Linked DNA regions of Homo sapiens. The protein of the gene in region 2 purifies or fractionates together with the protein of the main gene of each other region. This does not show direct contact. Each region holds a gene or a part of one and is shown on either strand. Other genes may lie near its edges.

The links.
Region 1: the proteins of ZBTB21 (region 2) and CREB3L2 purify together in Homo sapiens (co-immunoprecipitation; one large-scale study listed by IntAct). This does not show direct contact.
Region 3: the proteins of ZBTB21 (region 2) and NADK purify together in Homo sapiens (affinity purification with mass spectrometry, with the first as the bait; one large-scale study listed by BioGRID). This does not show direct contact.
Region 4: the proteins of ZBTB21 (region 2) and MTFR1L purify together in Homo sapiens (affinity purification with mass spectrometry, with the first as the bait; one large-scale study listed by BioGRID). This does not show direct contact.
Region 5: the proteins of ZBTB21 (region 2) and REEP3 purify together in Homo sapiens (affinity purification with mass spectrometry, with the first as the bait; one large-scale study listed by BioGRID). This does not show direct contact.
Region 6: the proteins of ZBTB21 (region 2) and FAM110B purify together in Homo sapiens (affinity purification with mass spectrometry, with the first as the bait; one large-scale study listed by BioGRID). This does not show direct contact.
Region 7: the proteins of ZBTB21 (region 2) and TBC1D1 purify together in Homo sapiens (affinity purification with mass spectrometry, with the first as the bait; one large-scale study listed by BioGRID). This does not show direct contact.

Annotation. Positions count from the first base shown.
Region 1 is NC_000007.14:137,874,479-137,877,282, forward strand, and holds the end of CREB3L2 (cyclic AMP-responsive element-binding protein 3-like protein 2), read right to left. Parts: 3' UTR 501-2,804; downstream 1-500. UniProt on the Homo sapiens protein: Transcription factor involved in unfolded protein response (UPR).
Region 2 is NC_000021.9:41,986,361-41,989,860, reverse strand, and holds the end of ZBTB21 (zinc finger and BTB domain-containing protein 21), read left to right. Parts: 3' UTR 1-3,030; downstream 3,031-3,500. UniProt on the Homo sapiens protein: Acts as a transcription repressor.
Region 3 is NC_000001.11:1,754,471-1,757,970, forward strand, and holds part of NADK (NAD kinase), read right to left. Parts: intron 2,841-3,500; coding exon 2,711-2,840; coding exon of another isoform or gene 2,637-2,710; intron 2,413-2,636; exon of another isoform or gene 2,309-2,412; intron 2,188-2,308; coding exon of another isoform or gene 2,139-2,187; coding exon 2,033-2,138; intron 1,874-2,032; coding exon 1,788-1,873; intron 1,007-1,787; coding exon 904-1,006; intron 229-903; coding exon 74-228; intron 1-73.
Region 4 is NC_000001.11:25,826,454-25,829,953, reverse strand, and holds part of MTFR1L (mitochondrial fission regulator 1-like), read right to left. Parts: intron 3,340-3,500; coding exon 3,128-3,339; intron 446-3,127; coding exon 124-445; intron 1-123. UniProt on the Homo sapiens protein: Mitochondrial protein required for adaptation of miochondrial dynamics to metabolic changes. Regulates mitochondrial morphology at steady state and mediates AMPK-dependent stress-induced mitochondrial fragmentation via the control of OPA1 levels.
Region 5 is NC_000010.11:63,520,143-63,524,200, reverse strand, and holds the start of REEP3 (receptor expression-enhancing protein 3), read right to left. Parts: upstream 2,801-4,058; 5' UTR 2,656-2,800; coding exon 2,624-2,655; intron 2,464-2,623; exon of another isoform or gene 2,311-2,463; intron 1-2,310. UniProt on the Homo sapiens protein: Microtubule-binding protein required to ensure proper cell division and nuclear envelope reassembly by sequestering the endoplasmic reticulum away from chromosomes during mitosis.
Region 6 is NC_000008.11:58,146,904-58,149,284, reverse strand, and holds the end of FAM110B (protein FAM110B), read right to left. Parts: coding exon 1,942-2,381; 3' UTR 501-1,941; downstream 1-500. UniProt on the Homo sapiens protein: May be involved in tumor progression.
Region 7 is NC_000004.12:38,132,084-38,135,583, reverse strand, and holds part of TBC1D1 (TBC1 domain family member 1), read right to left. Parts: intron 2,501-3,500; coding exon 2,327-2,500; intron 1-2,326. UniProt on the Homo sapiens protein: May act as a GTPase-activating protein for Rab family protein(s). May play a role in the cell cycle and differentiation of various tissues.

The DNA.
Region 1 (2,804 bases), on a different chromosome or scaffold from region 2:
TAATGGAACGAAGATTACTCTGCTTGAGTGCACTGACCTTTATCAACCATTTCATCAGAATTTCTGGAGCATGAATCTGTTAGACATCCTCTGCAACTGTTCGTAGGAAGAAGGATCATTCCTTTCTGGCTCAAGTCCAAAGGATCTTTCTCAAGCAACCAGAGATGGGGAAAGCAAAATCAAATCCACAGACAGTTGAAATCTAGTTAGGGAATAGTTAGAGGAGACAATAAAAATAACAGTCATGCTGCATAAGTCTCTAGAGGATACTGTTTTTCTTCCCGTGGCTGCCTGAAAAAACAATTACATTCTCAATATTCCTCCAACTAAGGCTTGGATTCAGTCCTATATAACATACCAATTGCTGGTTTGAGGCTCTTCTTTCAGGCCAAGTAGATATCCAGGAAAGAACGGTTCGGCACACATACACAAACCCATGTTCATAAAAAAACAACATGCTTTTCAAATTAGTACCAAGATTATAAAGACTGGGCAACATCTTACTATTTAAGAAAAAATATTTATTTGCAAGAAATGGAAATACAAAAGCATAACAATTTCAATTTATTTTTTTTTCCCAAACTAAGTACAAGTGTCCTACAAAGCTTTTTTTTTTTTTTGGTATTTACTTAGCTATGATAAAGAATAAAAAGTCATTTAAAAAACGCGATAGGACAGATAACAGACTCACAACGTATTTAGATTTAAACACTGCTGGTCTACGTAACCTGTTACAAAAGAGAGCAAAACCTAACTGTCAGCATAGACATTAAAGCTCACCGTTGATTATAGCTCAGGGCCTGCTCAGCATTGTTTAAAAAGGGTCACTCACAGTTTTGTCAAAGAGTGCTGGTGTTCTCTATGAACTCATAAACTGTTTTATCTGAAAAGGTGATTTTCTAAGTAGTGTAAGCCATGGGTACATGGTGCAAAAAGTTCATGTTCTCACTCAGCTGGTGAGCGAAGGATGGGAGCAGAGAACAGAGCTAAAACCCCTGGTTTTCCTTTCCCCAGATGTAAAGCCTGCTAGCTGGAACTCACAGAAGATTGGAACAAAAAGATAGGAGATGGACACCTGGGGGACTGCTCCAGCACGAAGGGAAGCGATGAGCATCACACAGCAGGGCCATTGCAGGGGACAGGTGCTGTAATTCCTGCCCAGAGAACTTGAAAGCTTACAGTGTGCTCACAGGAAGGAATCGGCTCAGCTAGTCCAGAAATTGCTGCATTTCCCATATTACTTAGTTCTTTATTCATCCTGTGGTAAAGAGTCACCCTTGTTTTCCGTATCTATAAAACTGAAAGACTTAAAATTTACTTAGCACAGCACGCAACACCCTAGTAAATGCTCAAGAAATATTATTTCCCTTCCTTCTAGAAACCAAGGCTAAATAAAACATTCCTGAATTTTATGTTGTCCAAAATAACAAAACAAAACAACACCTAGTTTTTTCCTGTGTTAAGTGCTGACCCTTTGACCACAAAGGCATGGAACATTAATCTTCAAATGAGCCAGGTTCCTTTGCCCTGAGAAATGTTCCGCTATGAGGATTTATAATACCTTTAATCCTGGCTGGTTGTTTTTTTGATGTGATTGCACTCCTGCAAACTGGGATTTTCCTAATGGACGTAACCCTATTTCTTTTCTCCTGATGTGCAAATCTGATAGTGGCTCACTTTTAGGAAACCACTTTTGAGCCTTCAGAAAAAAATTTTTCCCCACACCCAACTCAATCTAATAATAAAAGAATATATACAAAATCTCCCAGTGACGAGGGATTCCTCAGTCATCCTGGATTTACCTATAAGGCACATTTAAGGCACAAATGAGCATGTAAGGGAGGAATGTGCACGTGTGTGTGTGTGTGTGTGTGTGTGTGTGTGTGTGTGTCAGAGAGAGAAGAAGGGAGAGAGAAGTATAAGCATTTGGGTCTTTTGAATAACTATTATTAATGTTTCCTCAATCCCTTCTATTCCCCAATATTCCCTAGGGCCTCAGGCAACACTCTTCCTTATGAAACTGAAAAGTCTTAGGAGTAACTGAATGAGTGAGTGAATGAACGAAACATCTAAGTCTTGTCTCTGGATCCTTCACAGCCCTCACGTCACCACCACCTACTCTCTCCTGTAACTGCCCTCCCAGCGGGGCCTATCCTAGCATGTGTCTATGGATAGTCTCACCTGAAGGTGGCCAAATAAAATGACTCTCAAGAGGGCACTACCTGCCCATGGCTTCACAGGTCCAGCCAGCCCAGCAAGCAGAAGTGCTGGTGTCTTTAACCCAGGTTTCTTAAAGACTGGCTTCAATAGAACCAACTGTAGTGACTTGGGGCAGAGGAAGGGGAGGATGAAGGTCTTCTAGTGCATCTCTGCCCTCTCCGTGTTGGCAAGGTTGGCATGAATGGGCCATTATTCAACTGGGGGTGGGATGTCTCCATTTCTGGACTGTGCTCAAATTCACACCTTGTATGACATGTGGGCAGAGGAGCTGGCCTGGAGAGGCCTCTAATTCTGCCTCTACGCTTTTGCTGGGTCTGAGGACATGGGAGGGAGGAGCCATAAAATGCTGGAGAACAATTTTAAAAAACACTTATGAAAAAATGCTGGACACTTGACTCACTGCCAGAACAAAGAAGAGCCAATTCAACATCCCAACTTTACGGGCACGTAAGATTCACAAGCTGAACCAAGAGATTTAGGAAGAAAAAAAAAAACATGGTAATTATAAGGGGTCTGTGAATAAGTTAAACTAAAAGCTGCTTTCACAATCTACAAATTAGGCCTCCAAATCAAAATCATTTATA
Region 2 (3,500 bases):
AGAGCAGAGGAGAAACACCTCACTGCAGTTTCAACATGCTTTCCAAGAACAATATATACGACATATACATTTTCCTGCCTCTCTCTTGTGACAATTTCTGTTAGAATTTGTTGGGGGTCTGATGGTTAAAATCATGGGCAAGGCCATTCTCTACATCATTGCTTAATATTTCAAAAATAGGTATTAGAGCACTATCAGTGGTCCAAAATTAGTTTTAGCTACTTATTTTGCTCCATGGGTTTTGGGCTTTTCAAAGAATACTATGTATAATTTGTAATTGAAAGCCTTTCAGTAGGATATCCAAAGTTCAATGTGTTTCAAAAGGGAAAACTTTTACTTGTGGGGGTGGGAGTTAGATGTATTAAAAAAACGAAACTACAAAATCCTTTTAAGAAAGTAATACCAATTTAGACTCTAGTTTGTGTTACGAGGTATTCTTTCAAATTTTTTTTAAAAGCCAACTACTGTCATTAAGAAATAATTTTAGATTTGTGCTCTAGCAGAAAATAACTCTGTACCCATCAATCTTATTGCCAACATTCCATACCAGTGGTAGGAAAGATATTCTCATTTTTTTTATTGAACCAGACATTTTTATAAAATACTGATTGACTTTGTACATTATGGATATTATATATGAAATTTTGCCTTGTATTCTTTCACTTGAAAAAACTCCAAAATTCCACAATATTTTAGTAGTTAACTTCCTATTCTTTCTTAAATTTGATGGAGAAGGGAAAATAAATTGCAGTTATTGATTCTTGCCATCTTTGTTTTCTTAAAGAAATCTATGCATTTTAAGGATAAAACTAAAGCATATGGGTTTACATGAAACATCAGGATGGATTATTGTACATTGAATTCATTCCGCGTATAATGTGGTATTTCTTACTCTGTCCATCTTGGTAGCTGTCACTTCAAAAGAAGACAGTTTCCCTGAGTAATCATCACCTACATGGCCATTAGAGTATCTATCGGTGATAATTCCATGATACAGAGTATCTTGGCATTATAAATTCAGTATCCCAGGACCTAAACCTTTATGCTACATTTTCGAAGATTTTTTAAAAATAATATTGTTAATCAGTAAAAAAAAAAAATATTTTTGATCTAAACATAGGTTCTGCATATCTGTTAGATTTTAAAAATGACTGGTGTTTTGTCTTCACATTTTTGTCTAAGCAAGGAATATAAGATTTCAAATAAAATTTTGAACCAAAAACATTTATAATGCCGTTCTGGTTTTTCTATTACTTTTTATACTGTACTTTAAAAGCATTAGGCTGAAAGAGTTTATTTTGGTGGTCAAAAAAAATATGCTTCCACTCATGTAACTATTTTAAATGTTAAGAAGTAAAATAATGAAAGATATGTTAATTACTTTATTCAGTAAAGTTTTTTAAGAATGTTTATCTCAGCCAGTAGGCAAATACTTGGTGTAAAACAAGTTGGTCTTAAATTGTTGCAACTCATTAGCTAGTGAAGATATTCATGTAAATATATTTTAGGATTGTAATTAATTTTGAAAATGTAGAAAGCTCTTTATTCCATGTAAGTATGCAGGATGCCTGCTTTTTTATGCAGTTGTGGAAAGAATGTAAAATGTTTTAATATATTCTTTGTTAATCTGAGAACTTGATACTGAATCGTTTATGTGGGAGAAGGAAGGAGTAACATAAAACATGTTTTTATCACTCAAAGTAAGCAATGGAGGTAACAAATATTGTGCATTTTAACAGTAATATTTGAAGATTTGTAGAATATTCACCTTTAAAACTAGTTAGTATGCATTTATAATTTTACCAGAATATACAACTAACAATTCAACAGTGATGTTCTTTGCATTTGTGGGGAGATGTGTGATGTTCTTGGTTTTCTGGTTTGGAATGGAACGTTTATAGCCTTGCCTGTAAAAATGTGCCCCAGCACTTAATGAGTGACCGTTTGAATCCATATGTAGTCCCATTGGTGCTAATGAGAGTAGCTGCTGTGAAACAGGAATAAAATGTGTCTGTTCACGGAGGTGCGGTGTGGATGCACCTACAAGGCCAACTCTCTGATCAGGGTGAGGGAGAGATGGAAGAATTAACAGATCTAAAGTTGGCCTTTGTTGTCTCAAATTGGGTTTGTACACACATGCATGCATGTGTGTATACAACTGTAATCTGGAACTTCAGGAAGTAAAATTATTTGAAGTTTCTTAGTAAAAAGTAATTAGGTATAATTCCAAATAGATTTCTGTATAAATTGTATCTAACTGGATTACAAGTCAGTTTGACAATTTACGATGTCTCAGTGATGTTTCTGCAATAATTGTGAAATGCATTATTGATTTAAATAATGCTGACACGTACTCTTTAAAAGTGTTCTTTAACACTGACTACTAAACTTTAAGTTTTAAAAAATAGGTTTTCATTTATGGCTTTTTGTGGTTTTAGCACTTTAAGAAGTTTAATTTTTTGTAATTTTTAATATGCTCTTTCAGTGTATCTCAGCGGGTACTCCAGCTTGTGGCATTCCCATGTGACTGGGGAGAAGACAAAATTGGTGTTTAGATTCTGGAGGAGAAAAAATGAGTTACAATGTCAGGTGTTTTTAAAAATTCCTTTTAGAGACAGTCTTTTGGGAACCAAAGTATTTTACTGTAAATCTTTAAAATAACAGAATTCAGTGCTCTTTCATTTGTTAATGCTGTCCAGATTTTTCACACAGTTATACTCAGTTAATACTAGTTTTCAGAACATTAGTCCAAGGCTATTTCAAGTTTTCCATTGAATATATGCTTATGGTTAAAAGAAAAACGAATGGTTTTATAATTCTGTGTATTTTGTCATATGCCTTAGCAGAGTAAGTCATTTTTCCATTTTACTTAGGAATAAGCTTTTTCGAACTGAAAATTCATGGTAAAATAGGATTTCTATCTAATGTTAATCCATTGCTTATTTGTATTCAATTCCATTGTCTACAGTTTGCTTAAATGTTGACTAAGAATGATTGGAGTCAATAAATTTGTACTGTATTTTGCTTCGAGTCAGTCTCAATGGTATGCCCTGTACTTTGATAGTAACCGGGTGTAGCATTTACATTTGTGAAAGTAAAGTTAAAATCTTCCTATTTGGGTAATGTGAATAGCTGTGAGAGATTTAATTTTCCCCCGTTCCAGGTTGCTTATAGAATTAAGGTTGTATTAAAGCTTTAGTTATTTGGGCATCGCAAATACGATGATTAAAACCAGATAGGCAACCATCTTTGCTCATCTGCCATTTCCTTTACTATTCGAACTGGTAGTTTTTAAGTTGATGGGGCAGGGGGGTAAATGCAGAAAAATAACATTTTTAAGTACCCTGCATTGATATTTCTGCATAGCAGTTGATAAACCAGTTTTATTTGATAATCTAAAGAATTTAATGTCATAGCTTTTTTTTTTCATTCTAATGAGGTTTTTCTGTAAAACCGGGGTATATCATTTTTAAAAATTTTATTAGCTCTCCCTGTAACGT
Region 3 (3,500 bases), on a different chromosome or scaffold from region 2:
GAAGGTCCTCATCCCTGGGACCGAAGTCGCCCCACCCTGGGCCCCTCACCGAGGCCGAGGCGCCTCCACTCACCTGGTACTGCATGGCCTGCTTCCCGACATCCATGTCCAGGCCTGCAGCCTGCGAGCCGTTCTCACCCAGCCCATTGTGCACGGCCGTCTTCTTCCCCCGGAGCTCCTTCACCACCCTGACCTTCAGCCGACTCCGGAGAACAACAGCTGCGTTCCCTGAGGTCCAGCAGGAGTCAGAGGGCATGCATCAGGGAAGTCAGTGGGGTCAGGGGCCCCACCCCAGGGAGGCCAGTGGGAGTCAGAGGGCTCTTTCTTCTCCCAAGTTGACACACTTCTGTGCCTTTTTCTTTTTATTTTGAGATGGAGTCTCACTCTGTCACCCAGGCTGGAATGCAGTGGTGTGATCTTGGCTCACTGCAACCTCTGCCTCCCAGGTTCAAGTGATTCTCCTGCCTCAGCCTCCCAAGTAGCTGGAACTACGGGTGCGCACCACCACGCCCAGCTAATTTTTGTATTTTTAGTAGAGACGGGGTTTCACCGTGTTGGCCAGGATGGTCTCATCTCTTGACCTCGTGATCCGCCCGCCTCGACCTCCCACAGTGCTGGGATGACAGGCGTGAGCCACCGCGCCCGGCCGACACTTCTGTGCCTTCTGAGAGTGAGAATCAGCTCACTTCTGCCCAACACACATGGCAGCTTCAACCTGTGATCTGCTGAAACTTCTCAGTGTCAGTAAAAGGTTTGAACCACTCAAGATTTAGAAATCCCTGAATCTTGAAACCTTTAAATGTTGCTCCATGCATCATTAAATGAAAATAAACCCCCCGCAAGCAAGCGAGACAGCAGCGCCATGATCAGAGCTCCTGTGGGCTCCAGAACATTCCAACTCACCCTCTATCACCTGAGTAACTTGGGACTGAAAGTTCTCAAAGCTGAATGGGGTCAGGAAGCCCAGGGAGCCCAGGTGGAAGGCCATGACCGGAGGGACGCTGCCCTGTGAGCCGACGGAGAGGTCACTCAGTGCCCACGCCGTGCACCCCCGCACCACCCAGCTTTCCAGCAGCACCTCAGGAGGGACCCAGCTCTGTGGGGACAGCACCCCGACCCTCTGCAGGAGGGACTGGCCATGTGGACAAGCGGAGGGGGACGTCGCAGGCCAGGGTGGGCCGGGCCACCAGGGCCAAGGTTGGTGTGGGGAGCTGGTGAGGAACAAAGGTGGCAGGGCTGAGCGGCCCCCTGGGCACGGAGGGCTGGGGGAGCTGGCGAGGGCGGGTGGGAGGCAGCCTTGGGGTCGGAGCCTCGCGCCCCACAGGTGCTAATGGGGAGATGGGGAGAAAAGCAGGGCGGGCTGCGGGCATTTCCGGTGTCACCAACATGCAGTGGGCCAAGGGCAGAGCCAGGGTCCCCCACACAGCGTGGCCCTACAGCCCCAGGGGAGAGCTGTGCTGCTGAGAAACCAGGAAGAGGAGCTCAAGGGAGGCCCAGAGGGGATGGGCCAGTAGGCGAGGTCGTTTCCCAGGACCCACCACCCTGCGCCACTCCCTGCTGTCCCAGGCGGGCGCTGGCCACCCCCAGCCGTAGCACTGTGTCCACACTGCCCCTGGCCCCACCGTCGCACCCCACCGGGCTGCCACCATGGGCCTCAGTGCTGGCCGCTCTAGGTGACTGCTCTCGTATAAAGGGGTGAAAAGCAATGGAAGCCATGCTTGTGAGCCCCTCGTTACGCAGCACCTAGACTAGAACCTGGTGTGGGTCTGGAAATGTCAGCGCTTCACCTGGAAAAGCGAGGAAGCGTACAGCAGCGTCCCGTCTCCCCCCAGGCAGATGATGAAGTCTATCTGATTGGAAATGTCATCATAATCTAGGAAACACAAAGCAAAACCAAGAAGAGGCTGTCACACAGTGGCCCCTCTGTGGCGCAGTGCGCAGACACCAATGACAAGGGCAACAGTGCCAGAAGCTTCCAATGGGGCGGGGAACTGTGCTGGAGAAACCAAGGACAGAGCTGCTGACAGCCCACCTTCTCGAAAGGTACAGAATTTCTTCTTCACTGCCCCAAAGCTTTCATCGCTGGCGATGGCAGGGTCTTCTAGCACTTTCTTTTCCACATACACGATCATGTTCTCCTGGAAGCAAAGTGCCAACCTGCTCATTCCACCTGCAGACCCCACCCTCCTGCAGGGAGGTTCCCGACTCACGGGCGCTGTGGTCAGAGACCTGGCATCGTGGCCTGCATGCCCGCCCCCCCACGCTCACGCTGAAACTTCATCACCAACGCGCCAGGAGGAAGCAGGACCTTTAAGAGATGACTGGGCGGAGGGGGCTCCCTCTCAGGAATTGACTAAGGCTGTTATTTCAGGAGTGGCTTTCCTGGGCGCCGCAACCCCCACGCCTGCTCTTCTGAAGAGAAGACACAGCAGGAAGGCCCACGTCAGATGTGGCCCCTTGATCTCGGACTTCCCGGCCTCCAGGGCCACGAGCCCACCAGCTCATTGTTGGTCACCCAGTCTGGTGCTTGCCATGGCGGCACACACAAACCCAGACACCCGGCAGATCCCCACTCAGTCCCCAGTTCCAGACAAGCAGCCGTTGCCCAGCACTTGAGGTGGTTCCCATGGTCTCACGGGGCGGTGATGTGGATGGAGGCCCCCCCAACTCCATGTGCACCCCAGGCCCCCTTCCCCCCTGCCCCGCGTGCCTCCATGAGGTGCGTGCAGAGCTCCTTGAACGGCTGCAGTAGGCTGGCATCTCTCATCTTCTTGATGACAAGGACGCTCTTTGGGGACTTGTTCCACGTCAGCCGCTGGCTCGCGGGGTCCTGAATGTGCCTTTAGGGGAGGAGAAAAGAGTTCACACCAGCTGCGATCTCCCTCTTGCGGAAAAGGTGTATGACTTAGAAAATAAAAAAAAAAATCTTTAAAAAGGTGTTTTCACCTCCCAGGGAAACGTGCTCGGTGGCCACGGGCTCACAGGGCCTAGGGTCGCGCCACAGAGACAGGGTCAGGGGTCAGTAGGGTCCGGAGTGACCACCTCTCACCTGCTTGGCCCATCACACGCAGGCTCAGGCCCACAACCCCCACCCGGGCACCACGCTGACCCAAGTGCACGCACCACAGCCCTTCCCAGCCCCCGGCCACTTGCCTGCCTGGCTCCTCAGTGACGCTGGTGGGGCAGAAATGACCACGAAAGCCCATGGCTGGGCCACTCTTTGCTTGATGCCCTCCTCAGGCCCCCACGAAAACCCAAACCAGTTGACATGGTGACTCTGTCCCTAGGATCCTCTGCACACAGTTTCTGGCCCCACGGGAGCCCAGGACCCCTCAAGGACCCGCTTCCCCCCCTGCACACAGCTCACTACCTCCCTGCATGAACGGACTTTAACCTCACTCACTCTCACAGTAAAAATCACAGGTTTAAAAGTCCGTGGCAGCCCTGACACAGCCACCCGCGCTTTGCTGGCTCTGACCCCGACCACTGTGCCCGGTGTT
Region 4 (3,500 bases), on a different chromosome or scaffold from region 2:
GCTTTATGAATGACATAACATATGGTACTACTAAGAACTTACTATGTAAGTATGTTGCATTACATAATTGGCCATGGGCAACTCTGAGTAAATAGATACCAGAGCTCCTCATCAGATACTTACAGATCTTGACTCTGTTTCATTCGGTGAAAGTCCTTCAGGATACCCATCATGTCTGCAAAGCTGCTGGCCTTGGACAAAGAGACGCAGTCATCCTCTTCAGACGAACTGCAGGCAGCTTTGTGTTCTGGTTTGCAACATTCAGGGCTGGCAGAACAAAGCAGGGGGACTGATGGAAGCTCAGGGACCTCCACCTCTGTCTCCTCGGTGATGTCACTAATGACAAAGGAAGTTGTAGAGTGGAATGAGGATCCAAAACAAGGTAAGGGAGAAGAGACATTTGAACTTCCTGGAGATAAGAAATCTGGCGTTAATGAAGCCGAAGCTGAAAGAGAAAACAATAGGCATGGGTGGACATTGGGGCTAGAACACAGTAGCAATATCTTCTCCCCACAGCCCTGCCTACTGAACATTCATTTCCTGGGCTGACACCATGACAATCTGGGAGAGCCAGGATGGTATCTGTAGCCAGTGGAGGGTCATTCCACTATGCTTCTCACTCGGGGGCTCAGAAAGCTGTAGAAGCACTGGGCTTTTCCAGTGTTCCAGGAAGGCAGGAAAACCCAGCCCCATAATGGCCTTGGCATTTAAAAGCTCCCATTCCACAATAGGCTGTGGAGTGACAGCCCTGTCATAGGCCAAAGCAGCAGAGATAAGAGCTAAGGCCTGAATTTGTCCTTTTCTCTAACTAGACTAGTGCTTTTGACTATGCTCCTTTGAAATCTTGCTATCTGTGAACTAGAAGACATGTTCTGAGCAAAACCAGAATGGTAACAGACCTCCCAACCTCCCCAAATTTCAGTGGAGAGAATTTCCTCAGTTTTTACATTTCTAAAAATACTTTAAAAACACTAAATACACTAAAAACTATGTTTCTAAAAAAGATGTTACTTCTGCTTGTCTCTTGGATGACAAAAAAGTAGCCAAGAAATAACAAAGTTTCAGTACAATTCTTCATAAAACTTCCATGTGAAGAAATTAAATACATGAAGATTTCAAAGAACACCATGATTTTCATGTGTCCTACCAAATGATAAATTTCAGAGCTATGACTCTGAGTCAATGCAGAGTGAAAAAATGAGGATGGGAGGAATATGAAGATAAGCCCTGAGCATCTTGGGAGCGATCCACCTGTTGGCTGTCCATGCCTCTGGTTAAGGCAGGCTTCCCATCCATTTCCAGTGGTTCTGCCTTAACTGTAGACAGAAAGCTGGAGGGGTGGGTTACAGGGCTTGTTTGCATAATAGACCACTGTTTTTTTTTTTTCTTTTTTTGAGACGGAGTCTCACTCTGTCGCCCATGCTGGAGTGCAGTGGTGCAACTTCAGCTCATTGCAACCTCCACCTCTGCCTCCACCTCCACCTTCCAGGTTCAAGGCACATGCTGCGATGCCCAGCTAATTTTTGTATTTTTTATAGAGACAGGGTTTCACCATGTTGGCCAGGCTGGTCTCGAACTCCTGACCTCAGGTGATCCACCCACCTCAGCCTTCCAAAGTGTTGGGATTACAGGCGTAAGCCACAGTGCCCGACCACTGTATTTTAAGGCCAAGATCTCCAACTTTATGAAATTCTCCTTCCACCAAAAAAGTCCACCAATTTGAGATAAGAAAACATAACATAATGTCATGAAACTCCCCACTTTGAAGGGTGGGGCATGGGGACAATGTCACTAGCAGTATAAGAACTGAAGTGGTAAAGCCACTTGTGATTCCTGGTAGAAACAACAAGGCAAGGGAAGATAGGTGCTTAAAAAGGGTAAGTCTCAGTGGTGGTGGGGGGAATGTTTACTTCTTGTATTGAAAAGGAAAGCAGGGCGCGGTGGCTCATGGTTGTAATCCTAGCATTTTGGGAGGCTGAGGCAAGTGGATTGCTTGAGCTCAGGAGTTTGAGACCAGCCTGGGCAATGGCGAAACCCTATCTCTACTAAAAATACAAAAAATTAGCTGGGCATGGTGGCATGCGCCTATAATCCCAGCTACTCGGGAGGCAGAGGCACGAGAACTGCTTGAACCCAGGAGGTGGAGGTTGCAGTGAGCCAAGATCGTGCCACCGCACTCCAACCTGGGTGACAGAATGAGACTCTTGTTTCAACCGCGGGCACAGTGGCTCATGCCTATAATCTTAGCACTTTGGAAGGCCGAGCTGGGTGGATTGCTTGAGGCCAGGAGTTTGAGACCAGCCTGATTAATGTGGCAAAACCCCGTCTCTACTAAAAATAAAAAAATTAGCCAGGTGTGGTGGTGCACACCCGTAATTCCAGCTACTCAGGAGGCTGAGGCACGAGAATCGCTTGAGCCTGGGAGGCAGAGGTTGCAGTGAGCCAAGATTGCGCCACTGCACTCCAGCCTGGGCAACAGAGCAAGAACCAGGACCCTGTCTCCAAAAAAAGGAAAACTGGCTGGGCTCGGTGGCTCACACCTATAATCCCAGCACTTTGAGAGGCTGAGGTGGGTGGGTCATCTGAGGTCAGGAATACAAGACCAGCCTGGCCAACATGGTGGAACTCTGTCTCTACTAAAAATATAAAAATTAGCCAGGCCTGGTGGCACACCCCTGTAGTCCCAGCTACTCAGGAGGCTGAGGCAGGAGAATCGCTTGCACCTGGGAGGCAGAGTGCAGTGAACTAAGATCGTGCCACTGCACTTCCAGCCTGGGCGACAGAGCAAGACTCACTCAGAGGAGAAAAAAAAAAAGCTACTGTGGGCTTATGTAAGATGTGATCTTAAAGACACTTAGAAGAGGGTATCAGTTTGGGGGCTAAGGGAGGGACTCTGCCTGGGGTCACAGGTTAATATTTTGTTCTTAACCAAACCATTCAGCCCAAAATGGCTGGTAGAAACCATCTAAGAGGCACTACTGGCTAGCCAGGCTTCAGGACAACCCCAGGGCCCGGAACCTAAGTACCTGCAAACCAAGGATTACCACTTTCTTTACCCCTATCCTGCCCAAGAGCCAGGGGAAAGGAACAGCCTGTTACGTTCTGGCCCTGGCACAGGGGCTCCTACCTGCATCAGCTGCCACTATCTTTGCAATCTGGCTGCGCAAGTGGCTCAGCTCGTCCTGCAGCTCAGTAGTGCGGCTTAGGGCTGGCAGAGCTGGCTTCTTCAGGGCCAGAAGCCTCTCCTCGGACCCACGCAGGTTGGGAACAGAGGCATTGCGCTGCATGACAATCAGAGGGCTGGGTTTCCAGGTGTGCCTCAGGGGGCGCGTATCACTCCTGGACCAGGGAAAACCAAGTAGATCAGTTAGAGACAGCAGGCCACTGTGCTCCTAAGGTTCCTTCCCCCACTTCTGTGAGAGTAGTATAGTAAGGTTCTGCTCCTCTCTGAGCCCACAGTTCTCATTCCTCTCTCCTTGCTGCCTGCCACCTCTTCTGGG
Region 5 (4,058 bases), on a different chromosome or scaffold from region 2:
TTGCTCTTTCATGTTTAGAGAGAGAAACTGAGTAAAGAGGAAAAATAGAATGATGTTTATATTCTCTACAAGTGTGCTTTCTAATGTGCTAATGTGTTCACGGCTCACAAAATAACAGTTCCTGACACTTGAGAAATACATTTCTTTTCATGACATTTTCTTCCTCACATTATTGCTCCCTGTCGTTAGCCTCAAACCTTACATTCTGTAGCTCAAGTACTTTAACTGGAGAGAGGCTTTAATCCCCTCTCTCCAGTTAGGGAGCCTCCTAAGGAGTCTCCTTGTCTTCCAGGTCTCCATTGCCAATCATTTCACAGAAGGGCAGAGAATCTTCCAAAGCAAAGCTGTTGCTGCCTTATAACATTTACCCCTTCTTTCTTGAAAACAGGCCCCAGGCTACCTTTCCAGCTTGCTTTTTCCCCACCCGAGTCCCTCACGCCCACTGTAACTAATCTGGGCTTTTCCTCCTCTGGGCTTTGGCTCACGCCGGTCCCTATATCTGGAATCCTTTCCTTTTTCATCTTTGGCTGCCTAGATTCTGTCCATTCTTTTTTGTTTTTTTTCTGAGGCACAGTCTCACTCTGTGGCCCAGGCTGGAGTGCAGTGGCACGATCACGGCTCACTGCAGCCTTGACCTCCTGAATTTGAGCGATCCTCCTACCTCAGTCCCTGAGTAGCTGGGATTACAGGTGTGAGCTACTGTGACTAGCTAATTAAATTTTTCTTTTTTTGTGGAGACAAGGTCTCGCTATGTTGCCCAGGCTGGTCTCTAACTCTTGTGATCAAACAATCTTCCCTCCTTGGCCTCCCAAAGTGCTAGGATTACAGGTGTGAGCCACTCTACTGGGCCTATTCTTTAAGGCCCATCTGAAACGTAATCTCCCTTGCCTTTTCTGATTCTCCAACCAGATATCCCTTCCTTGTCCAACACTGGGTATTAGAGTGGGTGTAACTTTTACAAGAGTTGACATTTGGACCTGTACTGCAGATATCTGTGCACCCAAACTGTCAATTCCCATGATCAACTACGTGTTACTGACCTTTGTGTTATAGGTAGCACCTAGAACAGACATTCATATTCATTGGCAATTATGAAAAACAAAAGTCTAAAAGTGCTTCACAATTTTCTGTCAGCTGAAGAACTGGTCAAAGAAATCCAGAGGCTTTTTTTTTTTTTTTTGTAAAGTACAGCTTCTTAATAGGGCACTTGATTTTCTAGGTGTGGACACAACAGTTGATAGACATCTACTAGGTCAAGAAAGGTATGCCTGAATTAGATAAATGACAGACTCAAAAGAGAGGCCAGGAAAAGGCTGAAAAACAATCTGAAGGCATCTGTGGTATCCTTTTGTTTATATCTTGATTTTTAGTTTCGTACAGGGGAACACAGGAAGCTCTGAGGCTTTAAAACTAGAAACTTTGCGATTTAATCAAATGAAAAATTTTGAATGCTGTGCTGCAAATCTGATTAAATAGGGCTAGTAATTCACTTCCAAACAAAATAAACCCCAAACTCAGAAAATCTAGCTCCTTTTAACAAAAAGTCTGGTAATGTTATTTTTCCTAAATTCTAAAGCTTATCAGAGAAGCCTGCCCCCTCACATAAACATTTTTTCATATACCTTTATGAAACCTTCTGAGATAACACTACTACAGAGGTGAATAATGAATTCATAGGCCCTAGCTGTAACTACGTCATTGTTTACTTGGTGACTTTTTTTTTAATCGGGGAGAGGGGTAAAATGGAGATGAGAGAAAATCAGTTTAAACTGTATTCAAATACATTTACACGATTAACACCACCAACTCAAGGAATTTCTTTTTCTTACAGACCTGTAGCACTTGTTGGTAGGAGAACAATGAAATGAACCCATAATTTGAACAAAGGCAACAGGCACCTGCAGCCTTTCAATCACTTAGCAAATATTTCCGCCGAGACAGGGCCGAATTCGGGGATCTGGGCGAGCAGCCGGTGTCACCTTTCTCGGTAAGCTGCAAATCTTGGGAAAACTAGGACCCTTCCCAGGGATCCTGGGCTGGGAGCGGTCTCCGGTTTTTAGACAAATCTCTCCTCCTACCACACGTGACCGAATGGCAATCAGCCGCCAAGAGAGACACCGCAACGCATCAGCCGCGGGATACAAAGGCTCGGCACTGCCGTCGCATCCTCGGGAGGATCGCGGAGCCTCCCGCGCTCGGCGTCTGCGGAGCCTGCGCAGGGAGCAGCTGCGAGGCGCGCCGCTCCCGGGCCCGCAGGGCGGTGCCGCGCTGCGCGGGGAGCAGGAGCGGGGAGCGCGCGCCGCCTGCCCTGAGCGCCTGCCCACCCAGCGCCGCCGGAGCAGGGGCGCCGCGCCGCACCGCACGCAGCCGAGCAGCGCCACAGCCGCCGCCGCCGTCGCAGCCGCAGTCGCCGCAGCTAGGCCCTCGGCCGTCGCAGGGAGCTCCGCAGCGACGTGGACCAAGGTGAGGAAGCCGAGGGCTCCCCCAGACCCTCGGCAGGCCCGAGGCCGGGCTACCCCGTCCCCGCCCAGGCCCAGGCCTTCCCTTTCCTCTCGGCTCCTTCCCCTTCCCACAGCTCCCCTGGGCCTCGCGCCGGCTGCAGGGCGCAGTGAGAGGCACTTACACCACGGCTCTGGAGATCATCCAGGACACCATCTTCACGGGGGCTTGGGCCCCACGTCCGGGGCGGGTGGGCGCAGGGCGCTGCGGACCAGGCCGCCAACGGCAGGCCGCGCGCTTCGCCGGCTCCTCGCGCTCCCCGGGGCCGCGCTGGCGCCCTCAGGAGCCGGGCCCGGTGTGTGCGCGCGGCGGCCTGGGCTGCGCAGAGGTCGGTCCCCCGCCCGTCCCCGCCCGCCCCCGCCCGCCGGCCCGGCAGCCTAGTCCGGACAGCACCCCGCCCCTGCGCTCCGCTGATAGGCGGTGGCGGCGGCGCGTTGGCCCGGGCCAGGGCTGGGGCCAGGCGGCCGGGCTCCAGGGCTGGGCTGGCGGGATCCTAGCCCGCGCTGGACGGCCTCGCTGCCGCGGCCTTGGCCCCTGCGCTCTAACCAACCTTACCCTCCTTAGCTCTTTGGGACGCCCACACTCGCGGCGAGAGTGGGGCAGGAGGCTGAGGAAGGGTACTGGAGGGTAGGGATTGGCAGTGCCTGTGTGAAAAGTGAGATATTCGCAGGAACTCGGTGTCCAATAAAACTCTCGACCAGGCCCTGGTTTTGGAGAGCCAAGACTTTGAGGTGTGCCTGGCCACATCCGGTATCCTCAGTGTTTACGGAGGCCCAGCACCAAAGGCGTCCTTATATTACCACATTTTAAAGGAATCGTCGAGAGGTTCTTGCACAGGCCTCCGTGTGTGCCACGAGTCTCGTGGTGCAATGCAGGGAGGGACAGAGGAGGATTTCATGTTTGCAGTAGTGGGTGCAGTGATACCACTGTTCTGGGCCTCTTAGGGCACCTTTTCATCAGAGCATCTGCAAAGACTGTTTACAGACACGAATCTCCATTATTTCCCTGAGGCCTGCCAGATGTTCAAAGTAAAGGCTGGGTCTAGGATTCCTGACCTGTCTTAAGATTTACAACTATATTACAGCTGTAAGATTTACAACTGTATTTTTTGGAGGTTGGGTTACTGCTTACACCTTGCTGTTCTTGCAAATATCATTTCAAGGGCAGACTTTTAAAACTGTTTTTTTTTTTTTTTTGTGACAGTACCAAATTGAGAAAATGATGTTAAAGTTTAGATATTTTTATTTTTTCCAGTTAAGACGATAGTAAAAGATAATTCTAGTATTCAGATGGTGCGAAGAATAAAAGATGAAATGTAGGCTTGGAGCCTTTAATTAAAGTCCTAGAAAATATGATGGCTTTTGTGACCATACTGTAATTTTGTCTTCTTGTTCCTCAGTTTCCCTGTGATAAAAAGGGGGTAATAATACTGTAGTCTGTCTCTTGCCTTTCAAGGGTGATATGAGGCACTGCTAAATAATATGTTTAGGAAATACTCTGACTTGCATGGAAGACAATCAAAGGACACAACAGATTATCCTAAATTATTTTCAGTTCTC
Region 6 (2,381 bases), on a different chromosome or scaffold from region 2:
GTTGTTGACTATGGCAGTCCCGTGCCTACCATGATACCTGAAATGAGTCACTCAAACAGTGACATTTTGAAGAGGAATGAAGGAAGGAGTGGAGGAGCGAGTGTGTGAACACATGCCATGGTAGGGATGTTGGGCTGGTACAAATAAAAACGAAGCCATACATTTCAAAGGTGTGCCTCCAAGGTGAGAACTCAAAATATTTATAACTGAAGAGTTGTGTGGAAGATGTAAAAAATCCTGATGTTTAAGAAAAGACAAAAATAACACAAGTGTGAACTGAGATGCTGCAGCACATTTTAGGAACCTTGATGTAATCAGTTTAGCAAAAGCACATTGCTAGAGCCACAATTAAGAACACTGGTGTTTAGAGTAATTGGAATATGGTGAAAATAACTTAATGAAATAATGTTTCTTCAAGCCTATCAAAAATCTGCTTCTGTTTCATAGTCCAAAGTTAAACTTTTGTGCAATACAGGACAAAGAGAAACCACCACCATTAGTGCCTGCACCACAGCAATTTATTAGCGTAACTTTTTCTTTTTTTCTTTAAAGATTTCATAACAACTGAAGTATGTACAAAGTCTTACAGCATTTACACCATAAAAAGTTTCCTATTAGCTCATGAAGTCTAAGGTAGTGCTGCTGAGAACTTCAGATGTGGCAAAGGCAATGAGGCAAACCACTTGTAGGTTTCCCTCTCTGCTGCCACATCATGGTGTCAGCTGAGTGACAGCTAACTGTACCACCTGGAAGACAGGTTATTGGGAAAAAAGGGGACAAGTTGATAGGCAGCACTAGAGACCATGGGGTGGAAAAGCTACATAGCATTGTATTTCTACAGTTTCCTAGAGCTGTAACAAAGATCCACAGCCTGAGAGAATAACATATGCAAGACAACAGAATCACGCTGCTCAGATATGGTTCAGCTACCAAGTGTGTTCACTTTTGAATGGAAGGCTCTACTGATATGGCTGGTATTTGACTTCTGTTCATGTCTTCAGATAGCTCAAATCTGCACAAGCCTCACTCCCTTCCCCCAAATCAAATAACAACAAAGGGAGAGAGAAAGAAATAGCATGAAATTAGTAGTTCTCGACCAAAAAAAAAAAAAAAAAAAACAAAAAACCACAACTTTTTTTTTTTTTAAAGGCATTCAGTATTTGTTTTAGGGTGGTCATTCTGTCGAAAGATAATATTAGGAATTTCTGAATTATCCCAATCAGAACAACATCAACAAAACCCCCAAACACCCAACCTCCTAGATTTAACCATCTTTCTTTGTATCTGATCGTCTTTCCTTGGGGTCAGTATTACATAGAACCACCAACGTTTACACACTGAATCGGACACAAAACGTAGCATTGTTACCCCAATGACTGCTTCACTAAGTGGCAAGAGAATTTCAACATGTAAACGATTAACGTCAGGCTCACCACTTTATTCCACAGAAAACCCAGCCTGGTTCTATGTTCGGTCAGTCATTATCTGTTTGGTAGCAGATCCCATTTACTGTCCCACTGGAATAGTCTCACATGTAGGCAAAGTGGCTTTTTATTTCAAAAAGATTCTGCTCTCAACTTAAAAGCCAGTTGATAAAACTTTTAATTAAGACACAATAGCGCGGGATATAAAAACACAAGAACCACATAAATATCGAAGAAGTTGTATACCATTTTCATGTAAACAGTTTTGCTTACGAGCAAAGCCCTAATTAGATTCTGGCCTGAAACTTTTGGCAGATGACGCGTGTTCAGCCAGGCTCTGTAGCGATGGTGACGTGGAAGCCAGGTCAGTCCCCATGTTGACAAGCATGCAACTTGAAAACATTGCACAACAAGCAACACAAAGAGTGGAGAAGCTCACAACACTTCAAGGAGACCTCACAACCTTCACAACTGCGTAAGCACAGAGACCCACGCTCCCTCCTTTCCACGCACTGTCTTACACATGGGAGACCTTCTGTGACTCTCTAGCTTGTTTGATGCTATATAACCACTTGATGATTCTAGCATTTCTTTCGATGGCAGAAATGCCATACGGCACGCGGTCATTGGCACTGTCATCATTTCTAAGGTCACTGTTACTGTCCTGAGACTGTTCACAGTCTGAGCTGATCATGCTTGCGCTGCGGAAGTTGAGGGATATTATGTCAGAATTAGCCCTTGCAAAGTTTTCCATTCCCAGGTTTTCCAGCTCTTCCGGGTCCAGTCCACAGTAGTTGAAGAACCTCTCCACGTCCGCGTCCACTCGGAAATATCTGTCACTCAAGTCTGACTTAGACCGCTGGAGGGAGGGTCTTCGGCTGACTCCACAAGCTGGTTCCACAGGGTCGGCCTCGGGGGACTTCATGGAGGCGATGGCTGCGATTTTGGGCTTGGGAG
Region 7 (3,500 bases), on a different chromosome or scaffold from region 2:
CTCTGCATTCCGAGGTGCAACCTGCAGCTTAGTTAGTAGTGAATTAATTTGCATGGTCATTTGCTATTCTGCATTAATGTCAGGTCTCCTCAATAACACCGATGCTTTTATAGAAGCAAGCATGTCTTCTCTTTCACACATGGTCCTGTCTCCCACAGCACCTGGCTCAGTGTGGGCGTCAATGACTTGTACGGATTATGACAAATCCATGTGCATTATTATTTGGTTCCATCTGGCACGTCTATGCAATCGTCTGATGTACTGCTGAACAAAAGAGGTGGTAGAATTTGCTCTCCAGCGTCTAGACAACGTTCACATGTATTTAACAGGGAATGAAATGGGATTTTGATATTTCTAACAATTTTATGGACAGAATAAAGGTAGGAAATGGGTTGATTTTGGTATTTTGGCCCCCCCAGAAAAGCTATATGAAAATTCAGTACTGTATTGAACACCCTTCCTTGTCAGTGTCTGAAAAGTGTACACGGAGGAGGCATGATTCTTACATATGAGAGGCATATTTTCGTAGGGGATCATGGAAAAACTATATCCAAACACCACAAATCGATACAATACAATCCTAGATCCAACTCTTTGAGAGCTGCAGTGTCTTACTCAACTTGGTGGCCCCCAGCACTCAGCACTGCAGGGACTCAGGAACTACTGGTGGGTTGGCATAGACCACAGTTCTGAATGATCCTTCCAGAAGTGTAGGACTACTTGGTCAAGAGAACGACCATTCCAGGGAGAACATCTGTAATCACCAATTACTGTCTGATGCCTTTATTGAGGAATGTAGGTAGCTAAGCAGTTTTTCACAGCTCCCTGTCTTCACAAAAACAATAGCACAGGAGCAGCATGAAATTACTTTCTATGCTCTGTCACCAAAAAACTACAAGGTCATTTACCCAATAAAACAAACCTTTTATTTGAGAACTGCCTATCTTAACAAGCTAAACACTTCAATGCAAATGTGAGCTTTATTAGAAGTTTCCACCATGTTATATTTCAGGGACCTATCATTGGCTTGGAAGCCATTTAAAATGACCACCTACACTGTGTACCCCTACAGGCCAGACAGGCTCTTCACCCTCTGGAGACTTCCCTTGAGTGATGGCTGAGACTTCCAGGGTAAATTGTATACAGGCATATTTTCAGTTAGGACATCTCAGGGGAAAAAAAGAAGTTAAATTTCAGAATGTGAGTGGTTATTAGGGCTGGGCAGGAATAGCATTCGGTCTTGGTTCCTCTCTTTCACATATCTGATAGGGTATGCTGGGATGGAATGCCCGCTGGGAGGAATGCATTTCAGATAGCTTGACTCACTAGGCTGGCCTTTCTCACCTTGCTGCCAAGCTTGTGTCTGCAAAGCTCATCTTTCTATGAAGAAAAATCAGAGGCTTAGATCAGAATGGAACTTATTCTCAGGACAGCCCAGGAACACCATAAAAATTTCGGCAAAAATATGTATTTTTATCCACAGCCACTCAAAAACAACTTTTAAAAACACCCTCAAAACAACTCCTTAACAGGGACAGCACTGCTACACACTTGTGACATTAAAAAAAGTAGAAAAAAGTAGAACATATGGTTGCTTCATGCCATCAGATTGACAAAAGAGCTGCACTCCGCAGTTAGGTGTTCTTTTGGGCAGTGTGCCTGGGTGATGTGGGGGTGGGGGTGATGCTGGACCTGGCCAGCTCTGGTCTCCGTGCTGCACCTCAGTGCTTGCTCTGCACACCCTCCTGCGTGCACAGTCTCAACTGGTCTTTCTTCTGTATGTCCTCACCTGAGTATATCCGTGTTGAAATGGAAGTTTCTAGAGGGGAGAACTGAGACCTTCATTAATCAAATCTTTGTATATGCACCAAGGACTCACAAAGAATTATCATCTCTTCTGGTTTGTTATATTTATTTCTGTGTTACTTTCCTCCTTTACCATCCCTCTGTGGACCTAGCTGGTTTTGCTCATAGAAGTTAAAAGCTCTTAGATTCTCTTTGAGTAATGACAACGGCTGGCATTCAGCTAACAGGCCACGGCATCCTGAATCCAAGTTCATCTCTGGGCCTGTCCCCTAAAAGAGTTAAGTGCAGAAACAGCCTCTCAGAAAGCTCTGGGACTGCCTGACCTTAGCAAAGGACAATCTGTCTGCTCCATAATAAAAAGGACCCATTCTCCCGGGATACCTTTGATCCCAACTATAAACAGATCAGGGTGGGAAAGGTCCTCTGGTCATGGGAAAGCCCAGCCTGCTGTTGCCTTTGGTGAGTTAATGAACTACCATATATTTGTGATTCAGGAAGCTGCTTTATAAATATGCTCTACCTGCAACTGTTCAAGGAGGTCAAGGTTCTGTTTGCGTAAGCTGCTGTTGGTTTTCTCTAATTTATCCATTCTTTGGTTGTCACTGAGAGGAGAGGAATCGATAAGTTCTTCTTGAAGGACGTGGTACTCAACTTCATAAGCTTGTAACTGTTTAGCGATGTCCATTTCAAATACCTGTTATAGAAAGAAAAGTCATCACGTACTAAAACTGAGAAAAACCCCACAAGTACAGGCAGGCGTCTGCAATCACGACAATGCGCACCTGTGAAGCGTCTCCTCTACGCTTAGCTCTACACTTGGTACTAGAAGTAATAAATAAGAAAAACTACGCACTGAGAAGGTAATAATTTTACTTGGGACAAAAGGATATAAGAAACATCTAGAAATAATTCCAAGGTAACATTAAGTACAGGTTTTTGATACTCACCTTCCAAAAGCCAAAAAAAAAAAAAAAACCTCTCATTTTTAAAGACATAAAAATTTATTTTTAGTTCTTATTTCACTTCTTTTCTCTGAAAATTCTGTTAGGTTAGATACATCAACTATGGGTTAAAAGGAGAAAAGAAACAAAAGAATCATAGCCTGTTTGCAGAGTCACCAAGTCAAAGTTTAATTATAGTTCAGTTGGGTTTTCAGAGTTACAAGAACAGCTAAGTAATGGGACTGTTTACTAAAAAACTCTCCTTTGCACACAAATATGCAGAAATGAGCCAAAACCCACATGTCACCCACACAGATGAGTGAATACGAAACGATGCCTGAGTTGTCTTCTTTCCCACAATAGTAATGGTGACGAAAACACCACACGTGTGAAAAACAACTCCTAAGTGCCTAAGTGACTCAAGCCGTCCGTGTCTGTACTTTCTCTTGGTAAGGAAGGCAGGGCGGAAAGCAGAATCAGAAGACAGCTGCTGCTGCTGCTGCCCAAGGCATTTCCTTTCTTTCCAGTTGTTTCTATGAGAGAACCCCAGGGGCTGGGGCCTCTCAGCACAGCAGTGAAGCCCTAACGTTTATCTGATGGATCTGAGAATGCAGTCAAGCTGGGACCATCTTAAAAGAAAAAAAAAAAAAACCCTGCTAGATCAGAACACACATTCAGAAAGTGAAGTCAGGCTTTAAAAGGGCAGAAACTGCCTCTCTATTGCATTGCCTTAAGCAACTCCAATATTGTTAA